7 linked regions of the Homo sapiens genome follow. The protein of the gene in region 6 purifies or fractionates together with the protein of the main gene of each other region. This does not show direct contact. Each region holds a gene or a part of one and is shown on either strand. Other genes may lie near its edges.

Region 1 (4,171 bases), on a different chromosome or scaffold from region 6:
ATGTGAAATGACTACTAATGAGTACAGACTTCTTTTTGAGGTATTGAACATGTTATGGAATCAGATGGTGGTGATCAATGCATAACTTTGTGAATATACCAAAAACCACATGAAAGGTACACTTTAAAAGCCTGAATTTTAAGGTATGTGAATTATATCTCCATAAACCTGTGATTTTGTTAATATACGCTTATTTGCAAATGAATACATGGATAATGAGGAATAATATGAAAGGTTAATGACAACCTTGGTGATAGGGTACCGGAGACTGGGAGAGGAAGATAAGTGTTGAGGTAGAAGAAGACAAAAAATAAAAGACCAAAACAATAATCCAAAGCCAGGGGCCATGAGTTGGGAGATGGAGCAAGACGAAGTGTACAAAGAAATGAGCATAAATCATAAAAATGAGGGAACTAGGGTTGAAAAACCCAGTAAGTAGTTTGTAATGGGGGAGACGAAGCAAACCTAAGTAACTGCAATGATTCAACAGAATTTGCAGAAAATGCAGAAGGGCGAGAAAAACAATGAAAAAATGGATCAGAAGATTTAAAATTGGCTCTACCCCACCAAAGTTTTAAAAAGCAAGCAAGAAGAAAATTCAGTTGCTCCTGGGCAAGAATTCTTGGGCCCAGTGGGGTAGAACCAAACCATGATAAGGAGACACCAGTGTTTTGTAAGCAAGAGAATATATTAAGGAGAGAAAAGGGGCATTTATTGGGAGAAAAGGTCTCACTGTGATTGTTCTGGAATAAAGTAGCCCCATCGGACTGCCTCAGGAACTCATGATGGAAGAGGTGCCACTGGAAAATGGCTTAGTCGGGATCTTCCCCAAGAACACTAGAAGAGAGAGAGGAAGAATAGAATAGCTTTAAATTTTAGCAGATATTTCTTTTTCTTGTTTAATTAAAATAAACCTTATTGACCTAATATTTTTGAGACTGGGCTCTTGCAATGCTGCCCAAGCTGAACTCAAACTCCTAGGCTCAAGAGATTCTCCCACTTCAGCCTCCTGAAAAGCTGGCACTACAGGTGCGCACCACTGGGTCCAGCATAATGGCTATTTCTTGACAAATCTTGACAATGCCACCAGTATGTTTTTCTTTAGAGACAGAGTCTCGCTTCGTAGCCCAGGCTGGAGAACAGTGGTGTGATCCCTAGCTCACTGCAGCCTCAAACACCTGGACTCAGGAGATCCCCCTGCCTCAGCCTCTCAAGTACCTGAGACCACAGGTGCGCACCACCACACCTGGCGAATTTTATTTTTTTTTATTATACTTTAAGTTCTAGGGTACATACACCTGGCTAATTATAAAATGTTTATCTGTACAGACAGGGTCCCGTTATGTCGCCCAGGCTGGTCTCGAACTCTCGGCCTCAAGCAGTCCTCTCCTCTTCACCTTCCAAAGCCCTGAAATATGCCCACATCCAGCCTGCCACCAGTTTCTTTGCATACTTCTTTCCTAGGCTTGACCAAGACCTTTACTTTCTTCTGTGTACAGCTCAGCATTGAAAAAAAAAAGTTTAGGCTGGGCACAATGGGTCACACCTGTAATCCCAACACTTAGGGTGGCCAAGGCGGGAGGTTTGCTTGAACCCAGGAGTTCCACACCAGCCTAGGCAAGATGGCAAGACCACGTCTCTCAAAAACAATTTTTGTAAAATTAGCCAGGTGTGCTGGTGCGGGCCTGCAGTCTCAGCTAGTGAGAAGACTAAGGCAAGAGGAACCCTTGAACCCAGGAGTTCAAGGCTACGGTGAGCTGTGATCACCTCTCCAGCCTGGGTGATAGGGTGAGACTCAGTCTCTGAAAACAACTAAAAATAAAAAAAGTTGAATAATGAGTCTTCTTTTTAGAGGCAATGTATTTTTCCTCTTTAACTTTTTGTTTTCCTTAGGCTATATGCACAATAGACAAAGTTGAAATTTAATCTTAATCTCTTAAACCCTTACTGTCCAAACACATCAAACTCAAAAAAAAAAAAAAAAGGTGAAAGGTGTACAAGAGAAAAAAGGGAAGTGATCTGTGTCAAATGTACATTCCTTCCACAATTTGGGATAAAAATGATGCCTACCTGGTCTCTGGGTGCCAAAATAAGACATTAGAGACACTCCCCTCCTTCAAGAAATAAAATTGGAATCAGACACTAAGGTACAATTAAACAGACTTTGAAAAGTTGGTACGCACTACTGGGAGGTGTCTCACAGCTGTCAGGGTCAAGTGCAACTAGAATAAAAGCTCCTAAGGGCAGAAACTAAGTGGCTCACTTCCTCTGTAACACTGCCGTGCCCAGCACTGTACCAGCACCCCAGCAGAGTCAACAACTTTCTGTCAAGCCACACACTTACGGTCTCATTGTCCAGTGGAGGCCGCAGACGAGACATAGTGTGCCAAATCCCAAATGCACAGGGTGCCAGACAAGTCTGCAGGAGGCAGGAGGACTAGGGAAGCCTTCCAGGCAAGGTGATGCCTGAGCTGAGTTGTTTTTCTTTTGAGTTTGGAACATTAATTTAATCGGAGGAAAACAAGGGACATGAAAAGGGCAAGGAAATAAGAAAATGAGCTGAGTTTTGAAGGCAATGATCAGATGAAGTGAGAGAAGAATATTCCAGCAGAGGGAGACAAGGAGACTGCAGAGATTTCAAGGGGCCAAGAGCTGTTCAGTGCAGCTCAGTGAAGCACCTAAACAGAGGTAGGGGAAGGAGAACAGGGGTCAAAGCCCAGTATTGAAGTGTTCTGGATACCAAGCTAAGGAGACCTTATTACGAAGGTACTGGGGCTGCTGAAGGGTTTAAATGGGAAAGTGATTGTGAACAGATTAATAGTTTGGAAAGATACAGGCAGAAGTAAACCTCTGGATTTAACCAAAAAATAAAGGACAGAACCACAATGAAGATGTTTGGAAAAGATCAGGAAAAACACTGTTAAAAGATATTCACTCTCTTCTCTTATTTACAGATTTCCTTTATGGAATACCAAATTATTCTTTGAAAATAGAGAACTCAGAAGTGGCTGAGAGCAGTCAGTCAGTCTTCAGAATGTAAAAACTACTATTCTGAAGAAGTAGATATTACATTATTAATTTCATTTCAAGATGCTTTAAAAACGTGCCTTTTGATACACTGCAGGTTTTTTAAGAGTATGTCACAATAACTCTAAATCTTACTTGAAATTAATAGAAGAGCACTATAAATTTTAAAGGCTTCACAGACACAGGGATCATCTGTTATGTTCACTTTGGAACAGATCATAATTGTCCCTCCCTCTCAACATACCCAAAATACGTTGTTTAAGGCTACTTTCCTAATGGTCATGTTATTTCACAGTAAAAGACTGAGGTCACAATGATTTCTGAGCTGACAGAAAACCCCATGGGGGTTCTTTACCTCGCATCTAGTCTATTCAGTACTAACAATTCCAACCACCAGAAAGAATTTCCCTGCCTAGGCTTATTTGTTGGCACAACACAAAAAAATCTCCTGGGGCTGGGTGAGGTGGCTAGTGCCTGTAATCTCAGCACTTTGGGAGGCCAAGGCAGGCGGATCACCTGAGGTCGGGAGTTCCAGACCAGCCTGACCAACATGGAAAAACCCTGTCTCTACTAAAAATACAAAATCAGCCAGGGGTGGTGGCACATGCCTGTAATCCCACCTACTTGGGAGGCTGAGGCAGGAGAATCGCTTGAACCTGGGAGGCGTAGGTTGCGGTGAGCGGAGATCATGCCATTAGACTCCAGCCTGGGCAACAAGAGCGAAACTGTCTCAAAAACAATTATATCTAATAAAAAAGATCTATTTAACAATGATCAGAATAGGAACATCTTTAATGCCATGCAAATTTAACAGCTTTCTCAGTGGATTTCTCAGTAGACTGTGACCAATGATCTCAAAATAAACTCATATTTACTCTTAAGAAATACTCTATATTTGAATCTTCTTAACAGCAAAAGCCCCAGGAACTTTTTCCTGAACTCCCTAACAGCAGCAGGAAAACAAGAGATTCTCGGCTCTCTTTATTTTTAAAAATCACAATAACTACCCTTGCATTTACTATTTACGTTTACCATATATCACCATTTACTATCACCATCATTTCATAAAAGATGCTTTATTTTAACACCAAGAAAGCAGAACTTTTTTAAAGAAAAGATAGTCCTTCAATTGAATAAATTGAAT
Region 2 (4,171 bases), on a different chromosome or scaffold from region 6:
TATCTTTTTTTTTTTAGAGATAGGGTATCATTGTTGCCCAGGCTGGAGTACAGAAGTGTGATCTCAGCTCATGCAGCCTGGAACTCCTGGGCTCAAGTGATTCTCCCACCTCAGCCTCCTGAGTAGTTGGGATTACAGGTGTGTGTCACCACACTTGGCTAATTTTTAAATTTTTTTTATAGAGATGGGTTCTGCTATGTTCCACAGGCTGGTCTTGAACTCCTGGCCTCAAGTGATCCTCCTGTCTCAGCCTCCCAAAGCACTGGGATTACAGGCCTGGGAAAGTTCTGTTAATTAAAAAAGGTGAATCAGCTGGCAAGCACCTTTTGTCTTTCCTCCCCTTTCCTCCCTGATACACAGAAGTTTTGATAAGAGCTGTGCTGCCAATATTATGACAGAGGCGCCTAGAACACTGGTAACAAAATGGAACCACCATGCCAGTCCATCTTGTTTAAGCCACTATTTTTCAGATCTGTTAGTTGCTGTGAAATGCTATCATTAATGAAAATGGACCAGCCTGGGCAACATAGTGAGACCATGTCTCTAAAAAAAAAGTGTTTTTTTTGTTTTTTTTTTTTTTAAAGTAGCTGCGCATGATGGTACACATTTGTGGTTCCAGTTACTCAAGAGGCTGAGGTGAGAAGATCACTTGAGACCAGGAGGTTGAGGCTGCAATGAGCCATGACTGTGCTACTGCACCATACTCCAGCCTGGCGACAGAGCCTTTCGTCTCAAAAAAAGAAAAAGAAAAAGAAAATAGATATACTATGTTAATTTGCATAACAATATTGAAAAATTACTGGCCTCTTTTACAAAATAAGGAAAATAAAGCTCAGGGAGATTATAACTTTCCCAAGGTCACAGGGTTGCTAAGTGGTAGACTTAAACTCCAGGTACGTTTAGCTCTCACACCACTCTTCTTTTCTTTCTTTTCTTTTCATTTTTTTTTTTTTTTTTTGAGGCAGAGTCTCACTCTGTCGCCCAGGCTGGAGTGCAATGGCATGATCACGGCTCACTGTAACTTCCGCCTCCCAGGTTCAAGCAATTCTCCTGCTTCAGCCTCCTGAGTAGCTGGGACTACAGGTGTGTGCCACCACATCCAACTAATTTTTTAAAATATTTTTAGTAGAGACAGGGGTTCTGCCACATTGGCCAGGCTGGTCTCGAACTCCTGACCTCAGACAATCTGCCCACCTTGGCCTCCCAAAGTGCTGGGATTACAGGTGTGAGGCACTGCGCTCGGCCTCACTCTTTTCAATATTAGTTATGCTACTGTCACAGCTAAGCATATGCACCACTTGCATTGAAATGCTAAAAGAAAACCATAACCAGAATACTCACTTTCCAAATACGGTGTATTTCATGTCCAAATGTGGCTGTTTGCCATAGGTGATGAAGAACTGAGATCCATTGGTGTTCGGGCCATTATTAGCCATAGATACAACACCTCTAACATTGTGCTGAAAAAGACACATCAAAGTATTAACTGTGTTTTTATATAACCATCCCAAATATAGTATTGAAACAAGACAGGCACACCTTTGTTTTCTTTTTTAAAAATATTTTGAGATTGGGGTCTCACTATGTTGCTCAGGCTGGTCTCTAACTCCTAGGCTCAAGTGATCCTCCTGCCTTAGCTTCCAAAGTGTTGGGATTACAGGTGTGAATCAGCACACCCAGCCAAGACATTCAATCTTTACCTTCACAATATTTAAGGGAGCAAGAAAACATTTAACCAACTTCTCTCTATTAGGGATAATCCAAATGTTCAGTTTCTGCCTTTTCTGTACCTTTGAAAACTTGTATGTAAAAGGTTAATATATCAAATAATATTTCTCAATTAATTTCATTTTCACTTTGAAGAAATACAGCCATGGACACTTTTTGCAATACCAACAAATAATAGAAATAATCCTTACATTTATATTAAGGAATAGTGTGCTGGAATGAAATGATCAGGCAGGCAACAAAACCAAAATGCCCACAATCTCTTCTCACATACAATGGACTCTTGCTAGTTTCTTTATCTGTAAAACAAGGGAGGCTGGACTAGTTCAAGGGTCTATTTATAACTCAGATGCTCACAAGGGTCAAGCAGATAAACTGACAATTGGGCAGAATGTAAACATTAGAGAGAGATGAAGTCTGGCAAAATGAATAGGCTATCTCTTGATTAATGACATTAAATATATATTTTTTAACTAAGGGCCACAGATAATGCATCTGTGGGTGTTCCACTCATGGGCAGTCAGTTTATAACCCCAGGACTGAACGATCTAAGAAAGGTCTCACCTAGCTCTACTATCATGATAGTATTTGTTTACAAGAGACAGTGTATAGAAATTAAAAGGACCTTACTGATAAGAATGAAGATGTAACTGTGAACTATGTTACAGGGAGGTGCCTGTAATACACTACAACTCCACCAATTACTCTAGCTTTAGCTATTCATTGGGTGACGCTAATAAGTCATAGAGAAGCACCTATATCAAAATATTAATGCTTGTCTCCCTAAAAGGTGTCCACCAATCAAATGTAATATTAAATACACATGTAATATTTAATACATACACAATATTTAATACATACACAAAAATATAGTTAATAAAAATGTAAGTTAATAAAATAAGCACCCATTAACATATTTCCCAGCTTTCAGAGTTAAAATTTACCAATTCATTGAATAATGGGAGCTCAAGAAAAAATAAAAGTTACCAATTAATTACATATATCCATGTGCTCCTCTCCATTTATTACCTCAGCCTCTACAAGAGGTAACCACTATTCTAATACCTTTTTTTTTTCATTTTTTCATTTTTTTTTTTTTTTAGAGACAGGGTCTCACTCTGTCACCCAGGTTAGAGTGCAGTGGTGCAATCATAGCTCACTGTAGCCTTGACCTCCTAGGCTTGAGCAATCCTTCCACCTTGGCCTCCTGAGTAGCTGAGACTACAGATGTACACCTCCATACCTGGCTAATTTTTTAACTTTTAGTAGAGATGAGGGCTCAATATGTTGCTCAGGCTGATCTCAAACTCCTGGCCTCAAGTACTTGTTCCTCTCACCTCGGCCCCCTAAAGTGCTGGGATTATAAGAGTGAGCCACTGTGCCCAGCCCTAACACATTTACACATGCCTAAACAACACATTCTTTCCTTTTCCTTCTGAATATAATTACATCGTAACATTTTAGTCTTCTGGGAAATGCTTTCTACAAATAACATTGTTACATTTCTAAGGTTATACATGTACATATAGCCATAGTTTATTACTATTTTTTTACTACTATGTGATATTTCACTACTGAATATACTACAATTTATCCACAATCTACATAGTGATTCATCTACAATCAGTGGACATTTGGGTTGTTTCTAGACTTTTGCTATTACAAACAGTACATCAGAACACTCCTGTACATGTCTCTTGGTGCAAACTTACAAGTTTCTCTTGAGTAAACATTTGGGAATGGAATTCCTGGGCCAGAATATATGAAGAGTCAATACATATCCACAATCTTGGTGTATAAGGTGTATAATATAATGGTTCTTTTTTTTTTTTAGACGGAGTCTCGCTCTGTCGCCCAGACTGGAGTGCAGCAGCACGATCTCGGCTCACTGCAAGCACTGCCTCCCGGGTTCAGGCCATTCTCCTGCCTCAGCCTCCCAAGTAGCTGGGACTACAGGCACCCACCACCACACCTGGCTAATTTTTTGTATTTTTTGGCAGAGACGGGGTTTCACTGTGTTAGCCAGCATGGTCTTGATCTCCTGCCCTCGTGATCCGCCCGCCTCGGCCTCCCAAAGTGCTGGGATTACAGGTGTGAGCCACCGCGCCCGGCCTATATAATGGTTCTTAACTCTGCCTGCAAAAGAATCATCTAGGAACCTTAAAATATAGTCTAAGTCCTAACCAGCCCTACTGACTTTATTTTTAGGAGGGCAAGGCCATGATCTGTTATAGTTTTAAAACTTCCAGCCAAGTGCAGTGGCTCACTCCTATAATCCCAACACTTTGGGAGGCCAAGACAGGAGGATCATCTTAGTCCAGGAGTTTCAGACCAGACTGGGCAACAGAGCAAGACCTCGTCTCTACAAAAAATCAGAAATTAGCTGGGCACGGTGGTGCACTCCTGTGGTCCAGCCACTTGAGAGGCTGAGGCAGGAGAAACT
Region 3 (4,171 bases), on a different chromosome or scaffold from region 6:
ACCCAATTACAGTGTCTTGTCTGAGGCCCCCAGGTAGTAAGTGGTGGAACCAGGATTTGAACCCACGATGGCCGGGCTCAGTCTGTTTCCACTACTCTCCTATGCCACAGAGACCCGCTGTCCAGACAGGCTGGAGAGAGGAGTGAGAGAAAGAATTTTCAGTCCCAGTCAAGACTGGCCAAGGAGCCAAGCTCAAGCCTTAAACTTGCTGGATGCAGTTGACAAAAGAGAGGAAGAGGCATTAGAAAAACTCCTTCAAGCACTTATTCCAACATTCGCTTTTGACCACAGGGTGAGTTACACCATGACACACACCAAACCAGCCTTGAATACCAAGGAGAGGAAATCACAAAGAACGCCATTCTGGGCTAGCCCAGCTGGCCAAACGGCCTCTGCAGACCATGGGAGGCACACCCTGGGCCCAGGCCCCGACTCAAACCTCTTTGACCACACTGGCAATGTCCTCCTTATCCTGGCTGGTGAGGTCAGGAGCGATCTTCACCAGGACTGCCGGCCTGTGCACTCTCCGCAAGCCATCCCTCTCCTGCAGCACCTAGGGCGACACACGGCCAGAGCTGGGGACCCCGCAGACCACAGCCCTGCAGTGCAGCTGTGACCTACGCTGCAGGTCAGTGGGTTTCCACAATAGCGATCAAACTAAAGCAGAAACAATTTCTTTTCAGGAAAGCCAGCCCTCAGACGTGAGGAGTACAGTCGAGATGGATCCGATTCCATTCTTTTAGGCCAAGGGATCCCGTGGACATTGGCTAATAGCTCAAGGGTGTTTTAGACTTTTCTTTTCTTTTTTTTTTTTTTTTTTTGAGACAAGGTCGCACTCTGTCACCCACACTGGAGTGTAGTAGCATGATCACGGCTCACTGTAGCCTGCACCTCCCTGGGCTCAGGCGATCCTTCCACTTCAGCCTCCAGAGTATCAGGGACTACAGGTGTGCACCACCATGCCCAGCTAATTTCTGTATTTCTTGTAAGATGGGGTTTTGCCAAGTTGCCCAGGCTGGTCAGCTCCTGAGCTCAAGTGATCTGCCTGCCTCGGCCTCCAAGTAGCTGGGGCTATAGGCTTGAGCCACTGTGCCTGGCTAATTTTTAAATTTTTGTAGAGACAGGGTCTTGCTCTTTTGCCCAGGCTGGTCTCAAATTCCTGGGTTATAAGTGATCCACCTGCCTTGGCCTCCCATAGTGCTGGTATTACAGGCATGAGCCACGGTGTCCAACGTTTTTTAGACTTTTATTCCTAAAAGATAACCAGGAAATATTACCACATGTACTGGGTGATGAAGTCCTTCAGTTCACTCAGAGCTCTGGGCGCTAGGGTCAGAGTGACAAATGAGAGAGACGTGGTGTCTGCTCTTACAGACCCCGTGATTTATAGCAGCAGGGACAGATAATTTGTCACCGTCGCATATAATCAGTGTCATGAGAGGGGATCAGAGGGGACTCTGGGAAGGTATAGCCAGGGGTCCTACTGGTCTAGGTGCTAAGGACAGCTTCTGAGGGTGATGCTGAAGGTTCGCCCTGGAGAATGAAGGGGAGCAGGTGGGACAGGCTGGTGGGACAGGGCCTGGAGAGGGGTGCAGCTGCCCACCTTGGTCAGCAGGCGGCGCAGCTCGGCCTTTCCCTGAAGGCTCCGCAGCCCGGCAGTGTTGGGGCTGGACACATTCACCACCAGGTAGTCGGCCAGGGGGCCCAGTACGCGCACCCCTTCTGCGTAGTCCTCCGCGGCGTCCACTGAGGTCTTGTTCTTCCCCAAGTTGACCCCCAGAGGCAGTCCATCTGCAAACATCGCTGGTCAGGCCTGCACCCCGCACACCCTTTCCTGTGCCACCTTCTGAGGCTGCCCTTGACCAAACCACCTGTGGACAGCCGCGCAGGCCTTCCCTCCAAACCTGACCTGCCCGACACCGGCTGACAGGTGCTCAACTGCGGCCTGGGCCCGCCTGCTGACCAAAACCACTCACTGGCTTTGTCTAGCAAAGTCTGGGCAGCTACGAGGATGTTTTGCTGCATTTTGCCCTTTTTATTTTTAAAATTTTCATGGAAAATGGACAAATTACTGCAAATACTTGTGGGGCAAAAGATGGGCCTCATAAATTGAATAAAACTGAGAACAGAGAGAACTCAGTAGGCACATCAGGCCCGCAACTCTCACCTCAAGGAATGCTTGTTGGCCTTGGCTCGGTTGACTGGATGTACAGTTGCGAAGAAAAAACAAAATGAAAGAACATGTATAAAATACTGAAAAACAGGCCAGGTGCGGTGGCTCACGCCTATAATCCCAGCACTTTGGGTGGTCAAGGGCAGAGGATTGCTTGAGCCCAGGAATTCAAGACCAGTCTGGGCAACATGGTGAAACCCTATCTCTATAATTGAAAACTCAGCCGGGAGCAGTGGTGCACACCTGTAGTCCTAGCTGCTCGGGAGGCTGAAGTAGGATTGAGGCTCCAATGAACCGTGATCGCGCCACTGCACTCCAGCCTAAGGAGCAGAGCAAGACTCTGTCTCAAAAAAAAGAAAAAAAAAAAAAATATATATATATATACACATATATATATATATATATATATATACACATATACATATACACATATATATATACTGGAAAATGTTTTTTGTTTTTTTTTTTGAGATGGAGTCTCACTGTTGCCCAGGCTGGAATGTGGTGGCACAATCTTGGCTCACTGCAACCTCCGTCCCCTGAATTCAAGCAATTCTCCTGTCTCAGCCTCCTGAGTAGCTGGGATTACACGCATGTGCCACCACGCCCAGCTAATTTTTGTATTTTTAGTAGAGATGGGGTTTCACCATGTTGGCCAGGATGGTCTCCATCTCCAGACCTCATGATCTGCCCACCTCAGCCTCCCAAAGTGCTGGGATTACAGGCGTGAGCCACTGCAACCGGCCTAATTTTTGTATTTTTAGTAGAGAAGGGGTTTCACCATGTTGGCCAGGCTGGTCTCAAACCCCTGACCTCAAATGATCCGCTTGCCTTGGCCTTCCAGAGTGTTAGGATTACAGGCGTGAGCCACCATGCCCGGCCAAATGTTTTCAATTATCATGCCTAAAATGTAGAGGTGTAATTGTTTTCTAACTTATAATTTTAGTTCTCTGAGGAAAGGGACTCTCCCTCATATAATAACTGAGGGTACCCTGTATCTTAGGTGCTCCCTGGACAACCTGATTACTCCCCTAGCCTGGGCATCATTGTTAACACCTGCCCCTTTTTACTCTCAAGAGGGTCTCAGTTTACATGTAAGCAATTAGGTCAGCTTACTTAAAAATCCACAGGACTATCAATGGACTTGCATTTTGGACCTCCAGAAAAAATACATTTTCAGAAACACACTATGTGTAAAAGAAACGGGTTGTCTCTACTTGACTTCTTCTAAGTTTACTATCTTATCTGCACGGGGAGTGGTACATCAATGGTACAGGCTGTACTTTTGATCTGAGAGTTGGGGGAAGAATTAGAACACCAAGTAGCTCACAAAATGTGTTGTCAGGCCAGAGAGGATCAAACAACATCTATTGTACTGCTCACCACCTTCCCAACCCCAATCACACTCTCGCATCATCAGCAAATGAGATGAGTGTAGCTACTTTCCAGGGTGGGGACTGGAGGAGGGGATCAGAACCCAATTAGAAGCCGGGCGCAGCAGCTCACGCCTGTAATCCCAGCACTTTGGGAGGCTGAGGTGGGTGGATCAATTGAGGTCAGGAGTTCAAGACCAGCCTGGCCAACACGGTGAAACCCTGTCTCTACTAAAAATATAAAAATTAGTCAGGCATGGTGGTGGGCGCCTATAATCTCAGCTACTTGGGAGGCTGAGAAAGGAGAATCGCTTGAACCTGGGAGGTGGAGGCTACTGTGAGCTGAGATTGCACCACTGTTGCCTGGGCAATAGCGGGAGACTCTGTCTCAAAAGAAACAAAGAATCCAATTAGACAAAAGGTTTATCATAAGGTCTCCAAGCTTCCCAGTCTAGCACCCATCAAGCCAAGATCATCTGTAAGCTTGAATTCTTTTCCTCACAAGTAAACTGACTTGAAGGAGAATATCACTTTCATGTAGCTAACGGATTAGGAGTCATCTGCCCAAACTGACAAGATTTGGGAGTTAGACAGAAATTGCTGGATTACTCTGTCCCCAGAGGGC
Region 4 (4,171 bases), on a different chromosome or scaffold from region 6:
ACACTTTTAGCATCTGTGTTTCAAGGTTCACATTTTAAAGAACGTATTTTTTCAAATGTGGTGTAGTTTTCTTTTCTTTTGAGACAGGGTCTCGCTCTGTTGCCCAGGTTGGAGTGCGGTGCAGTGGCGTGACCCTGCTCTCTGCAGCCTTGAATGGCTTGAACCATCTTCCTGCCTCAGCCTCCTGAGTAGCTGGGACGACAGGTGTCCACCACCATGCCCAGTTAATTTTTTTTTTTGAGATGGAGTCTCACCCTGTCGCCCAGGCTGGAGTACAGTGTCACGATCTCCACTCACGGCAACCTCCTCGCCCCTGGTTCAAGCGATTCTCCAGACTCAGCCTTCTGAGTAGCTGGGACTAAAGGCATGCACCACCATGCCTGGCTAATTTTTTGTATTTTTACTAGAGACAGGGTTTCACCATGTTGGTCAGGCTGGTCTCAAACTCCTGACCTTGTGATGTGCCTGCCTTGGCCTCCCAAAGTGTGGGATTACAGACGAGAGCCACCGCCCTGGCCTAATTTTTTATTTTTTTGTAGAGACAGGGTCTCGCTATGCTCTCCAGGCTGGTCTTGAACTCCTGGGCTCAAGCAATCCTCCTGTCTTGGCCTCCCAAAATGTTGGGATTACAGGCATGAGCCACTGTGCCCGGCCTTGTTTTGTTTTGTTTGAGACAAGGTCTTGTGCTGACATCCAGGCTAGAGTGCAATGGCACCATCTCGGCACACTGCAACTTCTGCCTCCTGGGCTCAGGTGATCCTCCCACCTCAGCTATAGCTGAGACTACAGTTAGGCGCCACCACGCCCAGCTAATTTTTTCTCTTTTTAGTAGAGACGAGATTTTGCCATGTTACCCAGACTGGTCTTAAACTCCTGATCTCAAGCAATCCACCCACCACAGCCTCCCAAAGTGCTGGGATTACAAGTGTGAGCCAGTGCTCCTGGCCTGTTTTTTTGTTTATTATTATTATTATTATTTATTTTGTGTGTGTGTGTGTGTGTGTGTGTGTGTGTGATGGGGTCTTGTTCTGTCACCCAGGTTGGCCTTGAACCGCAGGCCTCAAGTGATCTTCCCACCATGCTGGAATTACGAGTGAGAGTCACGTTGCGCAGCCACATTATTTGCCTTAATCTTTGTGTAAGTATTAGAAGGGCTTCCACTTAAGATAAGTGACTTTTGAGAAGCCGTTACAAACTTTGGAGTATACCTTCTTTTCACAGAACTTATGAAGTTACTGGAATACATCACACAGATTCTGAGTAATGAGAGGCTAGAGATAGAGTTCCCAGAAGGGCTTCAAGAGCTTGGCCCTTGGCTGGGCACAGTGGCTCATATCTATAATCTCAGCTACTCAGGAGGCCAAGGTGGGAGGACTAGTTGAGGCCAGGAGTTCAAGACCAGCCTGGGCAACATGGTGAGACCCCATCTCTACCAAAAAAAGAGGCTGACCCTGCTGAAAACACCTTTCCACTCGAGCATGGTCCACTCCAGGCTCCTAAACACCACCCTGCACCCTGGGGGCCTTCTGAAAAGGAACCCCCAGTTGAGAAGATCACTTTGAGCAAAGAGATGCTTCGTTCTAGTTCTCCCTTTTTTTTTTTTTTTGAGACAGAGTCTTGCACTGTCGCACGGGCTGGAGTGCAGTGGCGTAATCTCGGCTCACTGCAACTTCCGCCTCCCGGGCTCAAGTGATTCTCCTGCCTCAGCCTCCTGAGTAGCTGGGACTACAGGCACCCGCCACCACACCCAGCCAGTTTTTGTATTTTTAGTAGAGATGGGGTTTCACCATGTTGGCCAGGCTGGTCTCGAACTCCTGATCTCGTGATCCACCCACCTCGGCCTCCCAAAGTGTTGGGATTACAGGCGTGAGCCACCACGCCCAGCCCGTTCCCAGTTCTCTTTAACCAGCTGTGTGTGCTAAGAAAGTCACAGCCTATGCTATCCCACCCTGTCGGAATTCTGAAGCCGGCTCTTAACTTTCTAAAACCACCAGCTTGAAAGCTATGCTTCAGGCAGGTGCTCCAGGGAGGAATCTCTGGTGAGGAGCAGGCATTTTCCAGAGGGAGAGCTGGGACCTAAATGGAAGGTGCTGCAGCTTTAAAACTGCACATTTCTGGATCCGAATGGGCCAGAAGTCAAGTGGGGGTGGTTGGTGTTTCTCCAAGAACAGCAACCCCTGGGCTCAGGCAAACATAAAAGGAGTGGGTAAGACGTGCCCTGTGGGATTCTGGACAACAGGTGGCTGCCCTGGCCCAAGGATACCGTCCTGCGCACAGAAGTGCAAGGTTTGCTTACGCACATCAGACTAACCTTTCCACCTGGGATGGTAGAAGTTCCCAGTGTGCCCCAGGGGTCTGCTTCAGCAGGTTTTGGTTGAGTGACCAGACCACTCCGGTTTCTCTTGCAGCTAGAACATTCACCTACCTATTATAAGGCAAATACTGCTTTAAAACAGTTCTTGAAAAGTAAAAATCATAGTGTAAAACGTACGTCTGCGAGACACTGTCTTGGGAAAACACCTCGACACGTGTTTTTGTGTGTGTGGTAAAATACACATAGCATAAAATTTACCATGTTAGGCCGGACGCGGTGGCTCACGCCTGTAATCCCAGCACTTTGGGAGGCCGAGGCGGGTGGATCACGAGGTCAGGAGATCGAGACCATCCTGGCTAACACAGTGAAACCCTGTCTCTACTAAAAATACAAAAAAACTAGCCGGGCGTGGTTGCGGGAGCCTGTAGTACCAGCTACTCGGGAGGCTGAGGCAGGAGAATGACGTGAACCTGGGAGGCGGAGATTGCAGTGAGCCGAGATTGTGCCACTGCACTCCAGCCCAGGCGACAGAGCAAGACTCTGTCTCAAACAAACAAACAAACAAACAAAAAATTTACCATTTTAGCCATTTTTTATTTATTTATTTTTTTGAGACAGAGTGCCGCACTGTCGTCCAGGCTGGAGTGCAGTGGCGTAATCTCAGCTCACTGCAACCTCCGCCTCCCTGGGTTCAAGCGATTCCCCTGCCTCAGCCTCCCAAGTAGCTGGGATTACAGGCATGTGCCACCACGCCCGGCTAATTTTGTATTTTTAGTAGAGACAGGGATTGTCCATGTTGGTCAGGCTGGTCTCGAACTCCCGACCTCAGGTGATCCGCCCGCCTCAGCCTCCCAAAGTGCTGAGATTAGAAGCGTGAGCCACCGAAGTTGATTTTAATGTATCCCACTGGAAAAACCTTGCCCACAGCAGGACTAGGCCTCAGAAGAAAAGAAACCCTTAAGACCATTGATTGGTTTGCTTCGTCCTGGGAGGGAAGGCAGTGAGGGCTCCCCCTTTCCCTGGTCCTGAAGGTCAGGCCGACAGGTCCACTCACATGCGCACAGCCACGCCTGGGTCACACTGCACAATCTTACACGTGTCGGTCGGTTATCCACAGCTTACATCCCTCCTTCCCTGCTATGGGCCCACTAGCCTCTGGAGGAACTCCAGGCCCATCCTGTTTGGGTGAAAGAACTGGCTCCTTCTTAAGGCAATAAACATGTTTCTAAACAGAACAGGAGCTGGGCAGAGCAGCACCAGCCTCCACTCGGCTGGCCCCAGATTCAGGTTGAATATTAAACTGGAAACAGTAAAAGCTGTGGGTGCACCTTGCGAAGTTCCCTTAGGGAGATGCAGATCCCAAGTTGTGTTTACTGCCGCGAATGGTCCGGCGACGTGCTGGACTCACAGGGACCCCCGAGCCAAGGATGTGTGCAAAAGACCCGAGGGAGCCCTTGGATTCTTTCTTGTTCCCCAAACCCTCACTCAAAAAGAGCGCACGACATTTCTGGGGCTGTGCACACAAGGCAACAACCCACTTAAGGCATCTATAAAAACCAGGTCCAGGCCAGCAAAGGGGCTCACATCTGTAATCCCAGCACTTTGGGAGGCTCAGGCAGGAGGATCACTTCAGCCCAGGAGTTCAAGACCAGCCTGGGCAACATAATGAGACCTCATCTCTACCAAAAATAAAAAAAAATGGCCAGGCCTGGTGGCATGCACCTGTAATCCCAGCTATTTGGGAGGCTGAACGGGGACGACCTTTGGACGCCAAGCCCAGGAGTTCAAGACTAGCCCACACAACATGGCAAAACCCCATCTCTACAAAAAAATACCAAAATTAGCCAGGCGGGCCAA
Region 5 (4,171 bases), on a different chromosome or scaffold from region 6:
ATGATCTTCGGAAGGTCAAAGTAGAGTCAACTTCATTCTTAATCTTGATTAAAGCATCCAATACCATGGGGCCACATCTAACAAAGAAAAATATCCAGTGGTATTTATGTAACGTTCAACCTCCCTACACTTTATCATAATATAATCGGAGACACCTGGATGTATTAGCTTATCCATTTGGTCTTCTCAGGTCACCTTCGGAATTTGTTCTGTAGTTTTGTTTTTGCAGATTCTTACATTTTAAGTACTGCACAGTTCTATTTTGATGATCACAGTGCAAACACATTTCTAGGAAATGGAAAGCTAAAGTAGTAGTAGACAAGTATGACACAACTTCCATACAGTGGCCGAGTTTTTGTTTTTTACTTCTGAAGCTCCCTGCAAAGTTTTTCCAAATAATTTATTTCAAATTTTAGTTTGATTTTTAGGATGTAGACAATAGTTTTAAATAGTAATTAATAATACATAACCATAAGAGAAGACATAGTACAGAGAATAAAAGACACCCAATCACTCACAGTCCCCCAGTCAAATCACTGTGAGCCTCCTAGAACATACAAGGGCAGTGACATGGTACTAAGCGGAGCATCCCTGGGCGTGGGACCTGGAGTGCCGGCCTGGCAGCCAAGAGACTGGTCTGCACCATGGCTGAGCCACTTACCAGCTTGCAGGCAAATGATTTAATTTCTGCCTAGGCATTTAATCCACTGAGTGCAGAGAGCAGCACCTGCATCCCACAGGATTGCTGGAGGTGAGTTAATACACACGAGATCTTTACAGCAGCATCTGACATATAAATCATAGTTTAACTATAATAATCATCATGCAGAAACTGTGATTCTACGGAAATTACTCTCTGAACCTCAGTTTATCTGTAGAGTTAATATTTACACCACAGGGTTACTGTGAAAATTACATAAAAATATGTAATTTTTCATAGTACCTGGCATACAGTAAGTGCTCCACAAATCTATTTTCTGGTTGCCACCCTGCCCCCATTCCACTCACTAATTTTCTATGCATGAGATTAAAAATATACTTAAAAATACGTCATTTCCTTTAGTACTATCTGTATTTCATTTTTTTTCTTTTTTTTCTTGAGACGGGGTCTTGCTCTGTTACCCAGGCTGGAGTGCAGTGGCACGATCTCAGATCTGTAACCTCCGCATCCCAGCCTCAAGAGATCCTCCTGCCTCAGCCCCCCAGTAGCTGGGACTACAGGTATGTGCCACCACATCCAGCTTAATTTTTGTATTTTTTTGTAGAGGTGGGATTTCGCCATGTTGCCCAGGCTGGTCTCTAACTCCTGGACTCAAGTGATCCTCCTGCCTTGGATTCTCAAAGTGTTGGGATTATGGGTGTGAGGCAATGGTGCGATCTCGGCTCACTGCAACCTCTACCTTCCGGGTTCAAGCGATTCTCCTGCCTCAGCCTCCCGAGTAGCTGGGATTACAGGTGCATGCCACCACACCCGGCAAATTTTTGTATTTTTAGTAGAGATAGGTTTTCCCATGTTGGCCAGGCTGGTCTCAAACTCCTGACCTCAAGTGATCCACCTGCCTCAGCCTTCCCAAATGCTGGGATTACAGGTGTGAGCGACTGCGTCTGGCCCATTATCTGTATTTGTATCAGCACTATGTAGACGTCCTTTCTGCTGGACCTCTGCTAACACTGGGAATTGGAAGCTTTAAAAACCTTTGCTATTCTGATACTGGAGAAGTGTTATTGTTTTCAGTGTTTTAAATCGAGACTTTTGAATACTACATAGGTTGAATGTTTGTCATAAATTTACTAATTTTTCTTTATTTCCCAATTATTTATTGAACATTTACTCTGCCAGGTTCTGTTCTAGATGCTGGGGATGTAGCAGAGAATAAAAGAGACGAATACCACCTGCCCGCACAAAGCTCTGTTCCAGAGGACTCATTCTAGAGACTCAGTCTGTCCACATTCTTTGCCTCTGTTTACCAGGGTCTTGGAAATTCTTTTTCATGATCTGAGGCTCTTATATATTATATCTGTTGCCATTTCTGCTTCCTCCCTCACTGCCAATAGTAATGTGCTATTTGACTTCTAATTTTGGTAACAGAATTTTAAACATACATGAGTTAAATGTTTACATTAATAAAGGTGGCTATTCTTTCTTTTATAACATTATCTATCACTTTTAAGCCTAAACAGACCACTGCCCTTCCTGAGGTCTGATAAATACTTTACATTTTTTTCTACTTAAAAAAAATTTTAAGTTACTCCCCTAAAACTGCAAAAACTGTATCAGTTGTCCCAAATCACTGACTAAATCCTCTTTTGCTTCTTATTTGTAATACCTTTCTCCCATATTTAATACTGGGAACTTAGATAAAATTGAGTCTGTTTTGTTGCTACATTTTTATTCTAATGATCTGCCTGTTCTTGTCCTAGCATATTTTAAATGACAACAACATCTTTGTTTTTTTTACATTACAAAGGCTAATATTTGCAGCCTATAAAAATTTCAAATTGGCCAGGTGGGTGGCTCACGCCTGTAATCCCAGCACTTTGGGAGGCACTTTGGGAGGCCTTGGCGGGTGGATCATGAGGTCAGGAGATTGAGACCATCCTGGCTAACGTGGTGAAACCGTCTCTACTAAAAATACAAAAAATTAGCTGGGTGTGGTTGCACGTGCCTGTAGTCCCAATTACTTGGGAGGCTGAGGCAGGAAAATTGCTTGAACCCCAGAGGCGGAGGTTGCAGTGAGCCGAGACCGCACCACTGCACTCCAGCCTGGGAGACAGAGCGAGACTGTCTCAAAAAAATAAATAAATAAATAGATAAATAAATAAATAAATTCAAATCAAAGGTAAAAAGTAATCCTGCAGATCATACTGGGACAGAGAAAAATATTAAAAAGTCAAAGTCCTCTCTTTAAGCTGTTTCATGCTAAATTTCCTAATAGGTAGGGCTCATTAAAGAGTACAACATAAATTTTCTCAGATTTTACATAGATACCAAAATTGTTTGATATTCTGGGTCCCTTGCATTTCTATAAGATTTTTAGAATCAACTTGTCAACTTCTGCAGAAAAGGCAGGTGGGATTTTGATGGGGATTGCAATGAATCTGGAAATCAATTTGGAGACCACTGCCTCCTTAACAACATTAAGTCTTCCAACCCACAAACAGGGCATGTCTTTCCATTTATTTATGTCTTCTTAAATTTCTTTCAACAATGTTTTACAGTTTTTCAGCATATAAGTCTTTTACTTATTTGATTTTTGAGACAGGATCTCACTCTGTCGCCCAGGCTGGATGGAGTGCAGTGTTGTGATCACAGCTCACTGCAGGTTTGACCTCCCAGGCTCAAGTGATTCTCCCACCTCAGCCTCCAAGTAGCTGGGACTATAGGCACAGGAAGGTCATCAAGCCCAGCTAACTTTTTTTGTAGAGATGGGGTTTTGTCTTATTGCCCATATAATTTGTTCCTAAGAATTTCTTTTTTGATGCTGTTATATGGAAAATAGTTTTTAAATTTCATTTTAGGATTGTTCATTGCTAGTGTATAGAAATCCAATTTTTGTTTTTTTAACAGTACTTACAGGCTTTTTTCTAGGTAAGCAGGGTTTTACATATATAAATATAAATATTTATATAAATATGAATATATAAATATAAATATTTATATAAATATGAATATATAAATATAAATATTTATATAAATATGAATATATAAATATAAATACATATATAAATATATATGTATACACACACACACACACATTTTTTCTGTAGAGACTAAGTCTTGCTATTGTTGCCCAGGCTGGTCTCAAAACTCCTGGCCTCAAGCAATCCTCCTGCCTTGGCCTCACAAAGAAAGTGCTAGTATTACAAGTGTGAGCCACCATGCCTAGCCTAGAAAAATACATTTATCTGCTAATATCTGCTACACGCCAGTATTTTCAGAAAAAGAATTATGCTGTTGTGAAAATGAAAGAATATAGCTATTTTTTGTGTGTGTATACATAGCTACAAAGTAGGGTTTCAGAGTCGGATTAGAAGGAAATAGAACTATAATTAAAACATGGTACAATATAAAATGAAGACTGACAGACATAGGTTGAAATAAACATGGACAAATTATGCATAATAAAAAACTAAACTACATTTGATTTCTGTATACCAGTTTTGTGTCCTC
Region 6 (3,882 bases):
TCCCATATTATCCAGAGTCACTGCCATCCCCATTTTGACTTTATGGAAGACTCCATTTCATCACTCCACTCTACAGCAGCAGTATACTGAGAGCTAGGGAAGGGAAGGAATGACACTACAAGGTGGGGAGGGGATCGTCTATAGAGAATTTTAAAACAATAAAATTGACTTTTAGTCCATTTGTTTTTTATCATCATCAAGCATCAGCAATTCTAAACAATGTCAGAATATTGTTTATATATTCTCTCCCACCAGGGTGGACTGGTCCCACCACCACTATCTGTTGGTGTGCCACTGCTATTCAGGCATCACCCTCTTTTGAAACCTTTTACCCACCCCAAAACAGAATTAATCACCTCTTCCTAAACCCTAATGCACACTTGAGTCTCTACAAGACCACAGGCACATCAAGGAGAGCATGTCTTTAACCCCTAGTACACATTCATAAACACATACTCTTCCTTTGCCTCAGCTTCCCAGTAAGGTCCTTGGTGAGTAAAATGTGCTTAGTCCCAGTTACTCTATATTGATAGAAGACAGCATCATGCCTTACACTCAACTCTTAGACCAGACTAAATACACATAGAACATAATATGAATTCCAAAGGCTGGTATTCACAGAACACCATAATCTGGACATAGTTCTTATTCCTAAATACTAAACCTTATACTCTGTTTATACCAAATTACTTATACACTTGGTATTTTTCTGCCTATTACAAGTCCTTTTTGTTTTCCAGTACTTTGTGTCTGATTTACCTAACTGCTAAGCCCCAGAAGAAAATTTAAACACTCAATTTTGGCTGGGCGGGGTGGCTCATGCCTGTAATCCCAGCACTCTGGGAGGCCAAGATGGGTGGATCACGAGGTCAGCAGTTCGAGACCATCCTTGCTAACACGGTGAAACCCCATGTCCACTGAAAATACAAAATATTAGCTGGGCGTGGTGGTGGGTGCCTGTAATCCCAGTTACTCGGGGGGCTGAGGCAGGAGAATGACATGAACCTGGGAGGCGGAGCTTGCAGTGCTCCGAGATCACGCCACTGCACTCCAACCTGGGTGACAGAGTGCGACTCCGTCTCAAAAAAAAAAAAAAACCCAATTTTGTTTTCATGCTGTGGATGCAATGGACACCTAATTCTAATGAATAAAACTACTGATAGCTAATATATAAAAGCATAGAAGACACTTTTATTATATAACATTTTATTTAAAAAAATTATTTTCATAGAATACATTTTCACATTAGAGATTCCCATTGTGCGAAAATAACAATTTATTACTTATAGTTTTATATTTGTGGACAGATTGTTTTAGAACAAGTAGAATACATTTGGGAATTAAATCTCAATTTACAGTTGGTAGTATTTTGATACATCTACAGGGAAACTTGCCCTTAAATGGAACTTCTGTATATTCAGAAGCACTCCAAGCGTTTCTTCCTAGGATTTAGAAATTTATAATATGAGCTATCAGCATTTCCTAATTTTAAAATTTCCCTAGTATATGTAACCATCAGTAGGTGGTATCTACTGTCTAGAGAGGGAAGTTTTCGAAAATTAAACACTGTCTAATTTTCTGCAAAGTTTTTATTCATGAATTAAGAGTATTTCCCTTTGTCCATTATTCCCAAGGCAAATATGGAAGTTTGATCATATACTAATCGTAATAAAGTTGGATTCTCTTTAAGAGATTGATAAATTGAAAGGCAAAAGCTGATATATCATGTTTAGTTATACTGTGAGTCTTATAAGAAGCTGGGAGGCAACCCCATTAACTCACCAGAATATAGAACTCAGTCTCACAACTTAGATATAATTCCTCTCAAACCTTTTCCTCAAAGATTAAATTCTGAAAATAATCTTGTGATTAAGAGAAGAAGGCTGTCCACCAATGGACTTATCTGTTATTTCTTCCTTATTGTGAGCTTAATGGCATGACAAAGCAGAGGCAAAGAGGCATACATCAATTCTTCAAAGTATGAAGTCAAAAAGGTCAGAGCTTCCACAGCATGGCAACAGCTTTGCAGATGCCCACATCGTGATAGTTGAAATAGCAAAGCCCAGCAAAGGTTAAAGCTGAAAGTGCCAAAAGCCCTGCCTTGGCAGCTTTCTGCAAGGCATCCCCATGAACATAGTCAGTAACAACTTGTCCAAGGCCCCTAAAGAAAAAGAAAAAATCATAACATCAATAAAAAACCACAGTGAAATTAGAAGACTATACAGATAACTTGGCTGCAAAAAAACAATCTGTCAAGTTCAAATGCAATGTCTCCATTTGCCACTCCACTGTCACTGTTTGCTTCTTTAGGGGATTCTGTATAGCCTTTTGCGTGTGTATGTCAGTAAGTCTATTTCTAGTGACTTTTCTTTAGAGACAAAGTCTTACTCTGTTGCCCACGCTGGAGTGCAGTGGCCTGATCATAGCTCACTACAGCCTCGAACTCCTGAGCTCAAGTGATCCTCCTGCCTCAGCCTCCCAAGTAGCTGGGACTATAGGAGCATGCCTCCATGCCCGGCTAATTGTTTTTTATTTCCTTCTATTTATTTATTTATTTATTTATTTATTGAGACAGAGTCTCGCTCTTTTGCCCAGGCTGGAGTGCAGTGGCACGATCTCGGCTCACTACAACCTCCGCCTCCCGGGTTCAAGTGATTCTCCTGCCCCAGCCTCCCAAGTAGCTGGGACTACAGGCGCCCACCACCACACCCAGCTAATTTTTGTATTTTTAGTAGAGACAGGGTTTCACCATATTGGCCAGGCTGGTCTCGAACTCCTGACCTTGTGATCCGCCCACCTCAGCCTCCCAAAGTGTTGGGACTACAGGCGTGAGCTACTGCGCCTGGCCTGTTTTTTATTTCTTTAAAGATGCGGTCTCACCATGATGCCCAGGCTGGTCTTGAACTCTTGGCTGCAAGTGATCCTTTCACCCCAATAACTAAAAATAACTAAAACTCTACAGTATTTTTAATTAATTCAAAAAGAATTTATTAAGTAGATATCATGTGCCAGAATCTGTCATAAATGTTGGGAGTATAGTAAGTGAGACAGCATCCCTACCCTTATGGAATATACTAGTGAATGAGAAGGAAAAAGTAAATATATATGTACTGAGAAGAAACACTTTAGAAAGGAAGACATGAATGAGAACATCCAAACCAAAGTGGCATCTCTAATGAATAGTAAGATTTGTGTGGCTGGAGCACATGGGTGAAGCAGAGATCAGAGGAAGGCAGGGGTCGGTTGCATAGGGTCTTGAAGGTCATGATAAGGAATCTGAATTTTATATGAAATATAATAGGAAACCACTGATACATTTTAAGCAGGGAGTGCCTGAGATTAGGAGTGACCTAATTTTACTATTTTTATAACAGTTTTATTGCAATGTAAGTCAAACGCCAGAAAAAATTCACGCTTTTTAGTATATAATCCACTGGTTTTTAGTATATTGAGTTGTGCAATCATCATTTAATTCCAGAACATTCTCATTACCCCAAAAAGAAACCCTCTACCTCTTAGCCCACTACCCAACTACAAATTTACTTTCTGTCTCTATGGCTTTGCCTGTTCTAGACATTTCATATAAAAGAACCCATACACCACTGGGCGTGGTGGCTCACACCTGTAATCCCAGCACTTTGGGTGGGTGAAGTGGGCGGATCACCTGATGTTGGGAGTTCAAGACCAGCCTGACCAACAAGGAGAAACCCCATCTCTACAAAAAATACAAAATTAGCCAGGCGTGGTGGCACATGCCTGTAATGCCAGCTACTTGGGAGGCTGAGGCAGGAGAATCGCTTGAACCCGAAAGGCGGAGGTTGCAGTAAGCTGAGATCGTGCTGAGCCGAGATCGTGCCGAGCCAAGATCGCACCATTGCACTC
Region 7 (4,171 bases), on a different chromosome or scaffold from region 6:
GTGAGCCACTGCACCCGGCCTTGAAAAGGAGAAGATTTAAACTCATGTTCAAGTTTATGATGGGAGACAGACTACTTGGGATCTCATCATAAACTAAATGTGCCATATGTTTTAGTATGTTATTCCTCCTTTCAACATCCGTCTCTATAAAAACTTCACTTGCCAGTTTAGACATCAAGCCTTGCTATATCATCTAGTTCATCATCTAACTAAGAAAAGGTAAAAACAGTGTACTCAGTCCAGAGAAGAGTCAGAAAAAAAATTAGGTTCTCTTTTTTTTTTTTTTTTTTTTGAGACAGAGTCTCGCTCTGTTGCCCAGGCTAGAGTGCAGTAAGCGTGATCTCAGCTCACTGCAACCTCCGCCTCCTGGGTTCAAGCCATTCTTGTGCCTCAGCCTCCCAGGTAGCTGGCCTTATAGATGCATGCCACCATGCCTCGCTAATTTTTGCATTTTTAGTAGAGACAGGGTTTTGCCATGTTGGCCAGGCTGGTCTCAAACTCCTGGCCTCAAGTGATTCGCCCACCTCAGCCTCCCAAAGCGCTGGGATTACCAGCATGAGCCACTGCGCCTGGCCCTTTTTTTATCTTTATCTTCTAGTGTTGCTACCTCTGAAGAGAGGAAAAATTTTAAATCATTCAAATCTCTATTACACAAAAATTTAAATTAAAATGAATTAGAGACCTAAATGCTAGAACTAAAACTATAAAACTCTTAGTAGAAAGCATAGAAATAAATCTTCATGATCTTGGATTAGGCAGTGGTTTCACAGATGACACCAAAATCATAAATGACAAAAGAAAAAACAGATGAATTGGATTTCATCAAAATTACTAACTTTTGTGCTGCAAATAATACCATCAAGAAAGTGAAAAGACAACTCAAAGGAATGGGAGAAAATATTTGCAAATCATGGAGGACTTTTATCCAGAATACATAAAAAACTCTTACAACTCAATCAATAAAATGACAAATGGATCTGAATAGACATCTTTCCAAGGACGATAAATAAATGGCCAATCAGTGCATGAACAGGTGCTTAACATCATTAGCCATTAGACAAATGCAAATCAAAACCATAATGATATAATGTAACTGCTATGTGTATATACTTGGAAGATTATTTCCCTATGTGAAAGAAAAAGTATGAATATTTTAATGTCTGACAGGGCTGCATTATCTGTTGGAGCTCAGTGGCTATCGACCACCAATGACTGAGAAATCAAGTATAACAAATATGAAACTCAAATTAGAAATAAGATGTTATCTTGGCTGGCACGGTGGCTCATGCCTGTAATCCCAACACTTTGGGAGGCCAAGGTGGGCAGATTATTTGTGGTGAGGAGTTCAAGACCAGCCTGGGCAACATGGTGAAACCCCATCTCTACTAAAAATACAAAAATGAGCCAGTTGTGGTGGCGCACACCTGTAGTCCCAGCTACTCAGGAGGCTGAGGCAGGAGAAACTCTTGAACCTGGGAGGTGGAGGTTGCAGGAAGCTGAGATCGCACCACTGCACTCCAGCCTGGGCAACAGAGTGAGGCGTGAGGCTCCATCTCAAATGACAAAACACACACACACACACACACACACACACACACACACACACACACACAAAGAAATAAGACATCATCTGTAAAATGGGAATTAAAAAAAAAAAAAGAAAAAAAGAAGAGGCCAGTTGTTTCCCATAATCACCAAAAAATATTTTGGGGAAGCAAAAAAGAGTACCCACATCACAACTCCCAGAGACCCTGATTTGATAGTTTGGGATCATTGCTAGAACTGTGGTTTCCAAACTACACCAAGCTGCCCTGGGGTACCAAAGCAAACTCACAGGTCCTACAGGATATTTTACATATTCAAATGAAACACAGTGATACTTAACATCTGTTGGTCATCATGTGAACCACTACTAGCTCAAGGTAGTTCAGTTTCAACATTAGATGTTAGATTTCTTTCAATGATCACATCTTTGCAAAGCTGGGTTTTCAGCAAAAATGAAGTACTGTGTGAAAATCACTGTGGAACAAGAAATGAGGGTGGCAGTATCCAATCTGATTTCTAAGGTTGGAGGAGTTGTATAATATCCAACAGCATATACATCCTATTAGTAAGTAATTATGATTGGCTGGGTATGGTGGCTCATGCCTGTAATCCTAGCAATTTAGGAGGCTGAGGTGGGAGGATTACTCGGGCCCAGGAATTCAAGACCAGCCTGGGCAACATAATGAGACCCTGTCTCTACTAAAAATAAGACAAAAAATAAAAACAAAAATAAAAAATATTAGCCAGGCACAAAGTGAGCTGTGATTGTGCTACTGCACTCCAGCCCAGGTAACAGAGTGAGATCTTGTTTCAAAAACAAACAAACAAAAAAGTATGATTATTTAAGAATGAAATAAAAATATTTTTTTCTTTCCATTTATGTGGATGATTTTGTTTTTGCTTTTGTTTTTCATAGAGACGGGGTCTTGCTATGTTGCTCAGGCTGGTCTCTAACTCCTGGGCTCAAGCGATCCTTCTGCCTTGGCCTCCCAAAGCACTGGGATTATAGTTGTCAGCCACTGTGCCCAGCCTATGTGGATGATTTTTTTTAAAAAATGTCTACTCAATGGCTAAGAAATAAATAAGCTGTTTGGATCTAACAAACTAATAAAACAAAAGTGTTAGGTATTTACCTTGACTTAGGAGCACCATGAAAATAATTACTGAAGACACTGAGGTAAACCTGAACTCAAACAGTTTGATGAACATTTGGGAGGAAGATATGACTCAAGAGGGTTCAGAGTCTTTGACACTCTGGATAGATGATAAGCTATTATAGAAGACTGCAGGAACCCCTCTTTTGGTAGTTTTGATAGGAAATTCAAAACTATCTTTTGAATTTCAGTGCCAGCACAAAGCTCTGAAACTTCAATAGCCAAATATATGCCTTAGATATCTGGGCAAACTCATCCCTGATCTATGCATCAAATAGGACAACAGGCTCACAGCTGAGTCCCAGGGATGGCCACCCACACCAATATTAACCAACAGAAAACCAGACCCTGATATGGTGTTATCCTAGGATAACACCACCTACTCTCAAATGACCTACGAGAGTCAAAACTCTTGGAAATACTAGGATGTGAATAACAGTGTCTTCAGCTTTTGTTTTCCTATGAATAATACAGAATTATGTCAATTAGTTTAATCAATTCAAAAAGAGAAGACTGCCTCTAAATAAGTCAAATGTTCTCAAAATCATTCTACTACTACATACCCCCACACCAATTTTTTCTTTTTTCTTTTTTTTTCTTTGAGACGGAGTCTCGCTCTGTCGCCCAGACTGGAGTGCGGTGGCACGATCTCAGCTGACTGCAACCTCCGCCTCCCAGGTTCAAGCAATTCTCCTGCCTCAGCCTCCCGAGTAGCTGGGACTACGGGTGTGTGCCACCACGCCCGGCTAATTTTTTTGTATTTTTAGTAGAGACGAGGTTTCACTACATTAGCCAGGCTGGTCTCAAACTCCTGACCTCAGGTGATCCACTCGCCTTGGCCTCCCACCCACCTCGGCCACTTCAGTTTCTTAAGCTCTTAAATGAAGATACTCCTGTTTCTCAGATTATTATGAGGGTTAAATAATTATGTAAATGTTTAGTAAATAATGGCTATAGCAATAGTTGTATTTGAATTAGGTATTTTTCTGATGGGTTGAGTCCTTAAACAAAAAACATAAAATGATACAGTCTCTGGATATACATAGAATACTGGTTATTTCTGACTGGCGGGATTATGGGCAACTTTTCTAAGTATACATTTGTATAATATTTTCATTCTTGGTAATATGTTCTTGTAATCAGGAAAAATTTTTTTTTATACAAATCTCTGGGAGGTCAAGGAGATCTGGGATCATTACCAGATTCCAAGCCAGATATAATCAGGAGAGAGATCATTTTGGCTGGCTGCCTCACTAATTTTCAAAAAAGGCTCTACCTCTTCAAACAGGAATATTAATCAGTTAATTCAATTGAAAGCTACTTTAGCCAAAGCTTTCATCACTACAAGTGAAAAACATATGAGAATTAAATATGAGATTTTCTGAATTCTCCTCTGATGTTCAGTATATTGGGCATCAGGAAACTGACCCCACTCCTAGAATCTGAGTGCCTCAGAGAGTCCTCTAACAGCT

The links.
Region 1: the proteins of SDHD (region 6) and SPECC1L purify together in Homo sapiens (affinity purification with mass spectrometry; one large-scale study listed by BioGRID and IntAct). This does not show direct contact.
Region 2: the proteins of SDHD (region 6) and PPIL3 purify together in Homo sapiens (affinity purification with mass spectrometry; one large-scale study listed by BioGRID and IntAct). This does not show direct contact.
Region 3: the proteins of SDHD (region 6) and DHODH purify together in Homo sapiens (affinity purification with mass spectrometry; one large-scale study listed by BioGRID and IntAct). This does not show direct contact.
Region 4: the proteins of SDHD (region 6) and TBC1D24 purify together in Homo sapiens (affinity purification with mass spectrometry; one large-scale study listed by BioGRID and IntAct). This does not show direct contact.
Region 5: the proteins of SDHD (region 6) and SDHB purify together in Homo sapiens (affinity purification with mass spectrometry; one large-scale study listed by BioGRID and IntAct). This does not show direct contact.
Region 7: the proteins of SDHD (region 6) and SDHC purify together in Homo sapiens (affinity purification with mass spectrometry; one large-scale study listed by BioGRID and IntAct). This does not show direct contact.

Annotation. Positions count from the first base shown.
Region 1 is NC_000022.11:24,273,366-24,277,536, reverse strand, and holds part of SPECC1L (cytospin-A), read right to left. Parts: intron 838-4,171; 5' UTR 734-837; intron 1-733. UniProt on the Homo sapiens protein: Involved in cytokinesis and spindle organization. May play a role in actin cytoskeleton organization and microtubule stabilization and hence required for proper cell adhesion and migration.
Region 2 is NC_000002.12:200,875,578-200,879,748, forward strand, and holds part of PPIL3 (peptidyl-prolyl cis-trans isomerase-like 3), read right to left. Parts: intron 1,461-4,171; coding exon 1,342-1,460; intron 1-1,341. UniProt on the Homo sapiens protein: PPIases accelerate the folding of proteins. It catalyzes the cis-trans isomerization of proline imidic peptide bonds in oligopeptides. May be involved in pre-mRNA splicing.
Region 3 is NC_000016.10:72,018,744-72,022,914, reverse strand, and holds part of DHODH (dihydroorotate dehydrogenase (quinone), mitochondrial), read right to left. Parts: intron 1,792-4,171; coding exon 1,604-1,791; intron 554-1,603; coding exon 440-553; intron 1-439. UniProt on the Homo sapiens protein: Catalyzes the conversion of dihydroorotate to orotate with quinone as electron acceptor. Required for UMP biosynthesis via de novo pathway.
Region 4 is NC_000016.10:2,491,847-2,496,017, reverse strand, and holds part of TBC1D24 (TBC1 domain family member 24), read right to left. Parts: intron 1-4,171. UniProt on the Homo sapiens protein: May act as a GTPase-activating protein for Rab family protein(s). Involved in neuronal projections development, probably through a negative modulation of ARF6 function. Involved in the regulation of synaptic vesicle trafficking.
Region 5 is NC_000001.11:17,033,069-17,037,239, forward strand, and holds part of SDHB (succinate dehydrogenase [ubiquinone] iron-sulfur subunit, mitochondrial isoform 1 precursor), read right to left. Parts: intron 78-4,171; coding exon 1-77. UniProt on the Homo sapiens protein: Iron-sulfur protein (IP) subunit of the succinate dehydrogenase complex (mitochondrial respiratory chain complex II), responsible for transferring electrons from succinate to ubiquinone (coenzyme Q).
Region 6 is NC_000011.10:112,093,084-112,096,965, reverse strand, and holds the end of SDHD (succinate dehydrogenase [ubiquinone] cytochrome b small subunit, mitochondrial isoform a precursor), read right to left. Parts: coding exon of another isoform or gene 3,769-3,882; exon of another isoform or gene 3,757-3,768; intron 2,162-3,756; coding exon 1,996-2,161; 3' UTR 1,172-1,995; downstream 1-1,171. UniProt on the Homo sapiens protein: Membrane-anchoring subunit of succinate dehydrogenase (SDH) that is involved in complex II of the mitochondrial electron transport chain and is responsible for transferring electrons from succinate to ubiquinone (coenzyme Q).
Region 7 is NC_000001.11:161,352,106-161,356,276, reverse strand, and holds part of SDHC (succinate dehydrogenase cytochrome b560 subunit, mitochondrial isoform 1 precursor), read right to left. Parts: intron 1-4,171. UniProt on the Homo sapiens protein: Membrane-anchoring subunit of succinate dehydrogenase (SDH) that is involved in complex II of the mitochondrial electron transport chain and is responsible for transferring electrons from succinate to ubiquinone (coenzyme Q).